Regions from separate parts of the Homo sapiens genome. Here region 2 is linked to region 1. Evidence: fine-mapped expression QTL. A gene starts in region 1. The other region holds a variant in brackets. All regions are shown on one strand. Distances are between the middles of the regions.

Region 1 (3,024 bases):
CCACCCCCACCTCCCAGCTCTGAATTGTCTTTATTACTCTGGAGCCTTTGTTCTGTGTGAGAATATCTTAGGCTTTTTGAGAAAAGCCCCAGATCACTGTCTATTCATTGAGAACCTGAAACCGGCTCCTCAGCCATTCCTGCTCTAGCCACCAGCAAGGTTCCCAAGTGAAAGTGAGTCCTCTCAGGAGAAATGAAAGCGCTGTCTCTTTAGGTGCCCACTCCTTACCCACCAGCGGAGCAATGTTTTCCAGGCTGGCCAGGCTCCAGAAGCTCACTAAGGAAGTTGGCTTGGGGCCAAAGGCATCTATGGTTCATTGTACACTGTGGCCCTCCCCTTCCTGCCCCTCCATTTGCTCCCCTTCCTTTCTCTCTCTCCCTTCCCGGCTCCTAGACTGGGTCTAGGCAGGAGCTTCGCCATGATGTCAGGAGGGAAGGAGATGCCTCTGGGCCTCGTACCACAGCCTCAGCTCTCTCTCTGCCCCTCCATCTGAGTCCCTCCTGGCTCCCAGCTCCCTCAGGGTGCAAGGCCAAGCCTCCAAGGAATCCCTCCCCTTACCTGCATGGCTGGAGCCAAGAGTGAGTTTGGGGCCACTGGCTATGATGAGGGGATGACCCAGAGCTCAGTGAGCACTGTCGAAGCACTTCTGTTAGGAGGTTTGGTTGGCCAGGGAGGAAGAAGGCCTCCCTCTCTGGGATGCTCCTGAAAGGACTCTGTGGGAAGTTAAAGAATCCTCTGTGTGAGAGCAGGATGGGGGAAGGTGGAGGGTTGGAGAAATCCAGCCCAGTGTCTCTGTGTCTCCCCGCCTCCTCCTCCTGGGCCTCTATCCTCTGTGCTCTTGGCCTCTATGAGTCTTTTTGAAACTTCCCAGGCTGGAAAGCACTAGGTCCTGGGATATGAAAGTCTCTTTTAACATAGAATAGGCCTTCTGTTGATCCCAAAGATGCTCTTAAAATACACAACAAGAAATCGGAGTTTTACACACAGTCAGCTTCTCATTTTATAGATGGGAAGCTGAGGCCTAAGGAGGTGAAGTGGCCACTATAGCCATTCCATTGCACCAGGGTGGAGGGCTGTCCACCAAATTCAGAGCCCGGCATAGTGGGTGGGGGTCACCCACTTTATCTGACTCTCATGGGTCCTTGATCTCAGGGGTCTTTTCTGGCAGAGGTCTGGGAGCATGACTGAGACATGATCTCAGAATCAAACCCCTGGAGGCAGTAGCTATAGCAGGAGCTGACGATCTCCAGAAACTCAGGACCAGACGATCTCCAGACACTCAGGACAAGTCAGTGTCCCCACCAAGGATGGGGCTTTGAGAGGCTCCGCCCACCTCTGTTTCTGCACAGCAGGTTTAGCAGCTCCATTCTTCCCCAGAGAGCCACTCCATCTGAGGGTGGCTGCGTGTCCACATACGAGGGGACAGGGCTGAGGATGAGGAGAACCCTGGGGACCCAGAAGACCGTGCCTTGCCTGGAAGTCCTGCCTGTAGGCCTGAAGGACTTGCCCTAACAGAGCCTCAACAACTACCTGGTAAGGAAACTGCTGGCCCCTCCAGGTGTCTGGAGAGAGGGGAGGGAGGGAGATCCAAATACAAGCCCTGCTGGGACCGAGGGAGGGGGCAGGCCTGGACTCTGCTGAACACCTAATGAGCATCAGGGAGCGCCACTGCAGGACGAGCAGCAGAGCCAAGATTAGAGCCCCTGCTGTCCTCACTACAGCCACAGTCATTCACCCCTGTGCAGCAGCTGGCCAAGACCAGCAGACACAGGGCACGCGCCGCACCACTTTATCTTCTGGGATTTTCTTAAGCGGGACCCATGGCAATAATGCCTTTCCTCACCTTAACCTAATTCGGGCTCTACTCCTGCTTTCCAACAAATGATTCTGTCTATGCTGAAGTGATAAGGATAGGAAAACTGTGCCTGCATAGGAAGGAAGCTGGAGGTGACAAGTTGGGGTTGGGGGTCACTGTATTTACATGGTAGAAATTCTGGGAATAGAGTAGAAACGGTAGTAGAAACTTGCACATATTGGAATTATTTCTGCTTCCAGCCTGGGAAGTTTTCAAAAGAGACATAGAGGCCAAGAGCACGGAGTATAGAAGCCCAGTAGGCCAAGCCAGGAAGAGGCGGGGGAGACTGGGAGACATTAGGCTGGATTTCTGGTTTAGAAAAAGGTGCCATCAGCTCCCTATGTGACCTTAATGCCCTGTGCCTGACCCTGTACTTCCTGAGGTGGTGCCAGTTAGCTCACACTCTGAGTGGCACCTGGGGTGTATATAGAAATAGAAAGAGCTTGAGATTTGGGTTCTATTAGTCATAGTGGAATCACTGAATTCCCATGGAAGACACGGAAGGCAGAGGAGAATGAAAACTAATGTTTATTGAATGCTTTCTATTCCCATTTGTCAGATGGGAAAACTGAGACTCTGAGAGGTTAAATGACTCGGGTGTATCAGGATCCAGAGCTCAAGGTCTCCTCTACAAGTGGAGGTAGGAGCTTGGCCAGAGATGCCCTCGGGGCAGGATAATGCATAGGCTGCCCCTACTCAGGAGCCTCCTAGGGCCTCCTGAGCACCATGTCCCTGCAGATGCAGAAGGCTAGGTGGTTCCAGTCAACATCTGTGTTGCAGCTTTGGGGACAACCCTTAGGACACTGCTCTCTGGTGGCTCAGTACCTCTCCACTAAATTCCATCCCCCAGCACCTGTACCAGAACTGGTGGCCTGAGCCTCCATTGAGGCTGGCCGACACATAAATAGCCACTTAACGATTGGCTCGTCTACCACAGGGAGTGATGGCATCAGCTGCACTTGTCACTTGGGATGTGCTGCGGATGCAACACTCCATCCCCCAGATGGGTTTGGTATAAAAAGGACAAGATTCAAGTGGAATCCAGTTCAGCTTGGGGGTGCTGAAGGCCCTCCTCCTAAATGCAGGGCAAAGAAAAGGGACTTGGAAAACAGATTTAAATCATGCCACTTAACTGTGTGACCTCAGCCAAATCCCCTTGCAAATCTAAG
Region 2 (2,500 bases), 25 kb after region 1:
AATCTAAGCCAGACTTTTCCTGTTCCCAGAGGATAACCTCTTCATTCATGCATCCACACCAGTGCTGGCCACTACTGCTCACCTCCCCATAATAGAAGCACAGCAGGAGCAGAGCTTGGGACTCTAACCCATGGACATATATGTTTTGTGCTACAGTAGCCTATTTACCACAGAGAATTCTGTTACTGATAGCTCTCTAACACATGCCTTTCCCACATCTAGAATACACTGCTAGATTCCCTAAGGATGGCCCTGAAGTAGTATAAAATCTGGGGTGCCTCTGAAATCATCAAAAATTCACTTATATTTAATAGGTCCATTAGGTCTATTCCATAGTATTCCTTGAGAAACAGATGGTCACAGGTAATCTTCATTAAACAGGTATTTATTGAACAACTACTTTGTGAGTGCAGAACTGAAAGATTCAGTGTTTGCCCCCAAGGAACTCACTGTCTAGTGAGGCAGACGTCAAGAAAACCAGTATTGATTGCACTGCTGTAGGAATACTGTGATTCAGAAAAGCCCAGGTTGGACATAAGGCAGGACAGCGCCCCTATAAATCCCATTCAATGCAACAGCAGTGTCTCCTGTGGAAATCATAATGACAGTTCATACATAACCAGATTTAGATCAATGACAGAGGGCTTAATGTACATATAGTTAAGCATCCCATAGAGAAACCACTTGCTACACGAACAGACACAATTTCCTATCTGTTGTTTACCCTTTCAGGAAATTACACTAGATTGGTCTTACAGTTTGAGCTTCGGAGGAATGTTCTGTATTTCATTTTGGAAACCTACGTTCCTTCCACTTTCCTGGTGGTGTTGTCCTGGGTTTCATTTTGGATCTCTCTCGATTCAGTCCCTGCAAGAACCTGCATTGGTAAGCAGCTCCAACAGGAGATTTCTAAGAACTGGCTTATCAGGTTACTTACTTTTTTTCCTTTTACCATTGTCTTCATTGATATTCCTAAG[G/C]CAGTTCCAAGAGTTGTTTTCTTGGGAGATTCTTTTACAGAGAAAGAAAGAGAGAGACAGAAAGAGACTACTTTAGGATTCTGGGTTTTTTGTTGTTGTTTTTTTTTTGGAGACAGAATTTCACTCTTGTTGCCCAGGTTGGAGTGGACTGGCGTGATCTCGGCTCACTGCAACCTCTGCCTTCCAGGTTCAAGTGACTCTCCTGCCTTATCATCCCAGGTAGCTGGGACTACAGGCATGTGCCATGATGCCCAACTTATTTTTGTATTTTTAGTAGAGATGGGGTTTCACCACGTTGCCCAGGCTGGTCCTGAACTCCTGACCTCAAGTGATCTGCCCACCTTGGCCTCCCAAAGTGCTGGGATTACAGGTGTGAGCCACTATGCCCTGCCAGGAGTGGTGCATTTTTAAACTTAAGTTTTACAGTGACAAGTAAGGGATCATTGTGCTTAGATGGTCTATTGTCAGTTCTTTTGCATATTTATCACCCCCTCCCAGGAGAAGACAGAACGTGAAACATTAAAAAAAAACACATCCCTCATATCTGTACAAAATGGACAAATCAACCCTATTCTAGAAGGTCGCAGACTTTTCAAAATGAGATGCATTCCATTTCTGGGTCTTGCCCTCACCCTGCCAATTCTCAAATGGGGACACTCTGCCAGGCTATGGTGGAGGACTAACCAGTCACTTTGTAGGAACATCCCCTGCCTGTTTTCCCAGGAGTGACGACCGTGTTATCAATGACCACACTGATGATCGGGTCCCGCACTTCTCTTCCCAACACCAACTGCTTCATCAAGGCCATCGATGTGTACCTGGGGATCTGCTTTAGCTTTGTGTTTGGGGCCTTGCTAGAATATGCAGTTGCTCACTACAGTTCCTTACAGCAGATGGCAGCCAAAGATAGGGTAAGAGTCTTGAGGGCCCTGTGTATGATCCATCACTGGTGCCGTGTGCTGATCTGTAGACATGGGCTGGACCTGGCTTCTATCCCCACCCCACCCGCAGTGATTCCCTGTGCTCCAGTGAGTCTTATCCTTGTTCAGGTGGGAGCAGCTGGAAGTCATGGTGCCCCTTGAAAAAGACCATTCTTTTCACCAAATACAATGAGATATTAATATGTTTAATTTTCCAGCAGAAAATATGTTATCTGTATGCAGCATAAAATCACAACCACAGGAGCAAGCATCCATGAAGAATCCAATATGAAAAAAACATGATCAGCTGCTTGCAAGTTTTATATTAATATATATTTACTATTTAATTCTTTTGTTGCATTATTTTGTCCTTAAATTATACAAGTAATGCTTTACTGAAAAATGTATGGAAATATTAGATTGTGACAAATTTCTTGGTGAGCATATTTTTCTGCTAATTGAGAAAAACTGTCATTATTTGGTTTAGCAATGGAACACTATAGTCCAGCTCTCTAAATAATAATAATAGTCATTATTTATCAAGCATTTACATGTGCCAGACACAGTAACAAGCCTTTTGCAAATACTATATTATTTTAAATG

Which allele goes with the higher level. Alleles are on the strand shown, and positions count from the first base shown. SD is a standard deviation of normalised expression in the study named.
For the expression in tibial nerve of the gene that starts at base 1,384 in region 1, G is the low allele of the variant in region 2 and C is the other (small effect, 0.28 SD a copy in GTEx).

The links. PIP is the estimated chance that this variant, and not a neighbour inherited with it, causes the effect.
Region 2: its variant is the best candidate, but not a certain one, in a credible set for the expression of GABRP in tibial nerve (GTEx, PIP 0.55).

What each region holds. Positions count from the first base shown.
Region 1 is chr5:170,782,342-170,785,365 of GRCh38, forward strand. It overlaps GABRP (gamma-aminobutyric acid type A receptor subunit pi), which reads left to right and starts at 1,384. Exons shown (of 10, transcript NM_014211.3): 1 at 1,384-1,533. It overlaps LOC107986475 (a long non-coding RNA gene), which reads right to left and starts at 715. Exons shown (of 2, transcript XR_001742978.3): 1 at 1-715.
Region 2 is chr5:170,807,868-170,810,367 of GRCh38, forward strand. It overlaps GABRP (gamma-aminobutyric acid type A receptor subunit pi), which reads left to right. Exons shown (of 10, transcript NM_014211.3): 8 at 733-885; 9 at 1,701-1,888. Among named protein-coding and RNA genes, the nearest start is that of GABRP, 25 kb to the left of the region's middle. The variant G/C (reference allele first, on the strand shown) is at 978.